2 separate regions of the Homo sapiens genome follow, and region 2 is reported to be linked to region 1. Evidence: microRNA targets listed by miRTarBase, many of them from high-throughput screens and not tested one by one. Region 1 holds a microRNA gene; the other region holds the end of a gene's coding sequence.
The links. Region 1 holds the annotated microRNA hsa-miR-331-3p (GCCCCUGGGCCUAUCCUAGAA, at 1,323-1,343, opposite strand). A microRNA usually pairs through its seed, bases 2 to 8, with sites in the 3' UTR of a target mRNA and lowers its output. Matches are read on the target gene's strand: a 7mer-m8 pairs with bases 2 to 8, a 7mer-A1 pairs with bases 2 to 7 and ends in A, and an 8mer does both.

Region 1 (3,990 bases):
TCAACTAAGTGTCTGGATTGAATGTAGACTTCAAAAACTTACTACGTAAACAAGCTATAACTTTTTAACTCTTCACAAATTCCTATTTTCAGTGTTCATAATGAACAAGGTTTAAAAAAGTGGAAAGGCTCCCAAAATACTGAGAACATATATGTATATAAATCAAGGATGGGTTCACTCATTTCAAGCTATGTCAAGAAGTCTATGGGATGAAGCATGTCTGTTGTGATGGATATAGTACAGAACTAACTCCACGGCTGAGTTCTTCAGAGTGAGCCTCTGTAGGCTCATAGTCCTATTTTAAAGGAATAACCTATTGACCCAATTTGCTGGTGTTATAAGCTTGGAGGAATAGCACAATTTCAAGTTCCTTTCACAGGTGGAGTTTCTGATTAGTCTGTGGTTATTTGAAACATGGTCTACACCTACTGCAGAAGCCAGCATTATTAAAAGCATACATTTTCATTGTGCACCATAACTTTTGGATTTGGGGTCGTTTCATACTTTTTCAGAAATACTGTCTTCTAAATTAAACAGAAAAACATCTATGTGAATATAGCGATGCAACAGTTGTGATATGAGACCATGTGATGGATCAACTAGGTCAGAATATTTGTAAAATCCAGAGTGGCAAGGAATAAAAATAGAGAAACTTACTAAAAATCTTCTACAAAATAGTGATGTAAAATGTGACGTATTAACCAATTTCTACTGTGTCATTCTAGCTTGTTTTCATTAACCATAGCAGAACTTCTAAAAGTGAGCTCTAAAATGTGGCAAATTTGATAATAAATTAAGGAAAAAGTCATTAGTCTCCAAAAACAAGAATTGAAAATCATTTGGCACTGAAGCCAGATGGCAAAGACTAAATGCTCTTCAGAAATTATGAACAATTATTCAGTTACATGAGACTGACATAACAGTGTCAAGTAGAAAAACATTTAAGAAAACAGAAACCATTAAATTTGGGGGAGAGTTTAATTTGGAGGAAGAAGTTGATTTTGGGGTTTTTTAGGGCTAAGTTGCTTCAGCTAAAAATATAGAACTGATAATAAACAAGAATAGCTCTCTTCACTGGCAATAATATCTGTATGGAATTTCTATTGCGAGAAATTACTATAATGCCAAAGGCTGGGAAGACTTTGTTACCCAATGTCATCCCTCTAATTTTAGAAGGATTAACCAACCAATTTTTGCTAAAATGTAGGCACACATACCAAAAAATGTGAATCTTGGTGAATATAGGATGTCTGGTAGGCCTCAGGTTATCTTCAGTCTTCACACTCTTGATGTTCCAGGAATGATGCGCGAGCTTAGGTTGGTTCTAGGATAGGCCCAGGGGCCTGGTTTGATCTGGGATCCCTGGGACCATACCTAGAACAAACCCAAACAAAACCAAACTCCTTGGGAGTGCTTTCAGCTCAGGTAGACTTCTGGGCTTTTCACCCATATGGACCTCCACGACTGTACCAGGACCATATACCAACCTTTAAGGGATGGGAGTGACATTTCTGGAGCCTTCTGTACGTTGTCAGCTGATAGTACTGTGCCTGAGTAAGCATTATTTAAGTCATGGTATGAACAGAAGGTAACAGATTGGTGCAATAAAAGTGCAGAAAATACTTTGATTTAGAAATGAAGTTAATTTCCTTAAGAATTTACTTAAGGAAGGGGAAAAGGATATGCTTTGTTTAGGATATTATAAAAGAGTAAACTTATAAAAGACATGCTTTAGTTTTAGAAAAATTCTTCAATAATATTCATTTGTAGGTAGCTAAGCTTTAGGAAATGATATAAAACTGAAAAACATAAAGCCTAAAACAGTAAAATTATCCTTTAAGAAAATCTTAGGATATAAATAGGAGAGGAAATATATATATCCATAGCCATATCTCACAGAATATACTGATTTTAAAGGATAATGCAGTCAAGAGAATATGCAGCTTAAATACTGTACTATTGCAATAATATGTTGCTAAATGAAGTTCAATACATAGAGATAAAACTAATTTCATTGCTGACAAGCTAAAATACATTAAAATATATACCATAAAAAATACTATATGCACTTTAATTTATCACACATTTCATTTTCCTTCTTTTTTTTTTTTTTTTTTTTTTTGAGACAGAGTTTCACTCTTGTTGCCCAGGCTGGAGTGCATTGGCACAATCTCGGCTCACCAAAACCTCCGACTCCCAGGTTCAAGCGATTCTCCTGCCTCAGCCTCCTGAGTAGCTGGGATTACAGGCATGAACCACCATATCCGGCTAATTTTGTATTTTTAGTAGAGACGGGGTTTCTCCATGTTGGTCAGGCGGTTCTTGAACTCCCGACCTCAGGTGATCCGCCCACCTGGGCCTCCCAAACTGCTGGGATTACAGGTGTGAACCACCACGCCCAGCCCATTTTCATTTATTTATTTTTGAGACAAGGTCTCTCGTTCTGTTGCCCAGGCTGGAGTGCAGTGGTGCAATCATGGCTCACTGCAGCTGTGGCCTCCTGGGCTCAAGTGATCCTCCTGCCTCAGCCTACTGAGCAGCTGGGACTACAGGTGTGTGCCACCACATCCAGCTAATTTTTAAGTTTTTCTGTAGAGACCAAGTCTTGCTGTTTCTTGCCTAAGCTGGTCTTGAACTCCTGGCCTCAAGAGATCCTCCTGCCTCAGCCTCTCAAAGTGCTAGGATTGTAGGTGTGAGCCACTACGTCCTAGCTTATCACACATTTTAGAATATCTATAAAATCAGTTCCTCCTTATTCATGCTAAACTTTTACATGTGTGAATCCTTGAATCAATTAATCCTCTTTTTGGTTTACAGCAATTACACTGAATAGAATCACTTTCCTCTCACAACTACACTCAGAAGTTTTCTTCTTTTATCACTGACCTGGCTTTGGTATCTTGACTATCTCTTCTATAATGGCAGTCTCAACTCAAGAAACTGGTTTGGACCACCTATCTTTTTTTTTTTTTTTTGAGATGAAGTCTTACTCTGTCACCCAGGCTGGAGTGCAATGGCGCAATCTCGGCTCACTGTAACCTCCGCCTCCCGGGTTCAAGTGATTCTCCTGCCTCAGCCTACTGAGTAGCTAGAATTATAGGCAGGTACCACCACCACGCCCGGCTAATTTTTGTATTTTTAGTAGAGACGGGGTTTCACCATGTTGGTCAGGCTGGTCTCGAACTCCTGACCTCGTGATCCACCTGCCTCGGCCTCCCAAAGTGCTGGGATTACAGGCGTGAGCCACCGCGCCCAGCCTGGACCACTTATCTTTTATGATTATTATACCACAGATCCCTTCCATTAGCATGGATAACTGAATGCCGACTATGAGGCATGGTCATAAAATAAACAGACTGATTTGACAGTTACTTTGTAATGAAAACATGAGTCAATATATGGTTACTAAAATAATCAGCATGTTGCTAAAAATAAGTTGTTTGATGCTAGGATATCCATTTCTATACAGATTTGACTTTTACTTGTAAATATTATAGTGTGCAAATTTTATTTTTCATTCAAGAGAGAAAAGTGATCCTGCTTAATTATTAAATATTAAATTACAATTTAATCATGCCCAGTACAGAATGACAGTGGGAATTTAGTCATTCAAATATCTGCCAATATCATTAGATCTAACACTGATAACTTTTGGTAAGCTTTTAACGTCCGCTTACTATAGCTGAATAAAAATAAAGACCCTGTTTTTAAAACTAGCATAATCAAAAAATAAATTCTTTGTGGTATAATTGCCTATAGTCTATAAATTTTATTACTTCTCAGGTCTCTGTGACATTAATAGTGAATGTTTTCTTATTTTTCAGGGCTTAATCTATTTTCATGTCTTGGAAATGAAGATACATTTCTCTCTTAAAAAAAAAAAAAAAAAAAAAAAAAAAGCCGGCTGGGCGCTGTGGCTCATGCCTGTAATCCCAGCACTTTGGGAGGCCAAGGACGGCAGATCACAAGGTCAGGAGATCGAGACCATCC
Region 2 (3,672 bases), not on the chromosome of region 1:
ACTTCCCCATGATGCAAATGCTTCCTTACCCAAAAAGATGTAGAATTGTGCTTAGCAAGTATTTTTTTTTATTCCTGATACCTGCTAATATTGTGCCCACACTGATAACTAGTTTTCTACAGTGTATTCCAATGTATCTTTACTTTTTTCAGCAATACAATTATCTTCATGAGTTTCGGGACAAATTAGCTGCACATCTATCATCAAGAGATTCACAATCAAGATCTGTATCAAGATAAAGGAATTCAAATAGCATATATATGACCATGTCTGAAATGTCAGTTCTCTAGCATAATTTGTATTGAAATGAAACCACCAGTGTTATCAACTTGAATGTAAATGTACATGTGCAGATATTCCTAAAGTTTTATTGACAAAACTCGTTGTGTCTCTTTCATTTCTTATAGGAATAGGAAAATTGGGATAGGAAAATTGGTATGCAATTTTCCTTTTAGAAATGAATTGGTTGTTCTGGTATATTCTACCTGGAGGTAATGCTGAAAACATGCATTTGGAAAAATATTTGAATGCCTATTTTTAATACTTAGTACTGCACTTTTACTTCATTTTACTGTTTGTAACCACTGGGTAGCATATGACAAAGTAGTAAGTATGAGAATTGGTATGAGTGCCCAAACTTACTTTTAAATGATGTCCCCCTCCCTCTCTATTCCTCCCAAAACTTCTTCCGCTTTTTACTTCATAGACCTCCGGAATTGAAAAGGATCCTGTGAGTCTTCCACTCGCCCCCTCCCAGTACTGGATCAGCCCCAAGGGTGTTTATTCACTATGGGCTGGAACATTTTCAGAGACAAGGAATTCACTGGTTCAGACAGCTGCTCCACCTTTTGTCCGCCCTAGGAACTACACGGAATGAGCTTAATCCTTTCACATTTATTTCATAAAGAATTTAGCTACAGATTAACAATTTCCAACTCTCTCACTCTTTCACTTCCCCCTATACTATGAAACCTATCTTTTTTCATCTTTAAATTCAACTTTGAGTTACCCAAAACAGTCATTTGGGCTGTAGACAAGGATCACACACAATGTGTCAAACAAACACACTTGTTTTAACAGTCAGTGGTTTCAGTAGGGCTTACAGTAGTCACATGGCTCTCTTGGCTACTGGTAATTACAAGTGTGAACCAATGGCAATTTGGCAATGACCACCAGGTTGCAGACTCATAGGCACTTCCACAAAAGACAAAGTTTCACTACATCAAAATTTCATTTTTAAATAATTATTCAATGACTGGCTGGGCGTCATGGCTCACGCCTGTAATCCCAGCACATTGGGAGACCAAGGTGAGCAAATCACTTTAGGTCAGGGGTTTGAGACCAGCCTGGCCAACATGACGAAACCCCATCTCTACTAAAAATACAAAAATTAGCCAGGCGTGGTGGTGCACGCCTGTAATCCCAGCTACTTGGGAGGCTGAAGTAGGAGAATCACTTGAACCCGGCGGGGCAGAGGTTGCAGTCAGCCGAACCCAGGGGACAGAGGTTGCAGTGAGCCGAGATCACACCACTGCACTCCAGCCTGGACGACAGAGAGACTCTGTCTCAAAAAAAAAAAAAATCATACAATGACTAAACATCTTATTTTGTCTCACACTACTCTTCTTGCTGCTGATTAACTGCTTGAATTTCATTACAAAATAATGCAAAACAATGACCAGCCTGTTTGGGAATTTCAGAGCACTAGTATGTATTGTAATATAAAATCAATATATTAATAGAGTCATCCCTTGTTATCCTCAGAGGATTGGTTACAGGACCCCCCACCCCACCCCCAACAGCAAAATAAATGGATGCTCAAGTCTCTGATATAAAATGGCATAGTATTTGTATACTTTAAATCATCTCTAGTTACTTATAATACCGAATACAATGTAAATGATGTGTAGTTATTATACTGTATTGGTTTTATTTGTAGTATTTATTTTTCAAATAGTTTTAATCTGAGGTTGAGTCAGCGGATTTAGAACCCATAGATACAGACGGCTGACTGTACTTTTATACATAACGCTGCTTCTAGAACTTAACATTTTATGAGGATACTAAGGAAGGTAGGAGGATCACATATCCCAGCAGTATCTAAATGGTTAACCTAGGGATTTCATTTTCTCATATAATTAATACCAAAAGTTATAGCAAGAAAAGTTTTTTTTTGTTGTTTTTTTTTTGAGATGGAGTCTCGCTCTGTCGCCCAGGCTGGAGTGCAGTGGCATGATCTCGGCTCACTGTAACCTCCGCCTCCTGGGTTCAAGCGATTCTCCTTCCTCTGTCTCCTGAGTACTGGGACTACAGGCGCGTACCACCATGCCTGGCTAATTTTTTGTATTTTTAGTAGAGGCAGGGTTTCACCGTGTTAGTCAGAATGGTCTCAATCTCCTGACGTCGTGATCTGCCCGCCTAGGCCTCCCAAAGTGCTGGGATTACAGGCGTGGGCACCCGTGCCCGGCCCAAGGAAGGCATGTTTTTTAAGTACACACTGTAATAACAGATTGGCCTTCTTCATGATTTTTGTATTATAACCATACACAATTTAAAAATCACAATTTCTATTAAACTTTAGACAGTCATTGATATTTACATTAGCCAATCTTTTACAGTCCCCAATCTACAATGGTTCAACTTGGGATTTCTCAACTTTACAATGCTATGAAAGAAATATGTATTCAGTAGAAACTATAGTTCAAGTATTCACACAACCATTCTGTTTTCACTTTCAGTACAGTACAATGTTTGAGATATTCAACACCTTATTATAAAATAGGCTTTGTGTTAGATTATTTTGCCCAACTGTAGGCTGATGTAAATGTTATGAGTACGTTTAAGGTTGGCTAAGCTATGATGCTTGGTAGGTTAGGTGCATTAAATGCATTTGCAACTTACATTTTCAACTTATGATGTCCGGAGATAATTCCATTGCAAGTTGAGAAGCATATATATTATCATTCTCTCAACATAAATACATAACTTATTCATGAATACTTAGAAAATTGAGAGAAAATATTGGCATGGATTAATCAAATACTTTAATAATCAACTGAATTTTGAAAGTACTTGCATCTCTCAATTCCCACGGCAAGTGCTATTTAAGCCTCTACATTTAAAAAGCTTCAGTAGGCCAGGCGCAGTGGCTCATGCCTGTAATCCCAGCACTTATGGGAGGCTAAGGCAGGCAAATCGCTTGATCTCAGGAGTTCGAGACCAGCCTAGGCAACATGATGAAACCCTGTCTCTACTAAAAATACAAAAATTAACCAGGTGTGGTGGTATGCATCTGTGGTCCCAGCTACTTGGGAGGCTAAGGTTGGAGGATCACTTGAGCCCAGGGAGGTAGAGGCTACAGTGAGCCATGATAACACCAATGCACTCCAGCCTGGAAGACAGTGAGACCCTGTCTCAAAAAAAAATTTAAAAATTTTTTAAAATGCTCGACTAAACCACTTTAATATTAAGTATACGGGAAAACATCAACTATTCTATAACAAAGAAACATGAGATGTCAGTTACTAAAATATAATTGTCCAGTTAAAGATTCCAGCATTCCAGGGAAAAGTATTTTCTCTACCTAACCTGTGTGATATTCCCCAAAACAATGAGGAAAGAGGGCGGAGAGAGAATCAGAGTCCTGGTCATTCACAAACTAGTGGCATTTGA

Region 2: the mRNA of CDKN3 is a reported target of hsa-miR-331-3p. The part of its 3' UTR that is shown has no 7-base or 8-base seed match.

Annotation. Positions count from the first base shown.
Region 1 is chr12:95,305,833-95,309,822 of GRCh38, reverse strand. It overlaps MIR331 (microRNA 331), which reads right to left and starts at 1,403; the gene lies at 1,310-1,403.
Region 2 is chr14:54,419,840-54,423,511 of GRCh38, forward strand. It overlaps CDKN3 (cyclin dependent kinase inhibitor 3), which reads left to right. Exons shown (of 8, transcript NM_005192.4): 8 at 153-379. The coding sequence ends at 239. Among named protein-coding and RNA genes, the nearest start is that of CNIH1, 20 kb to the right of the region's middle.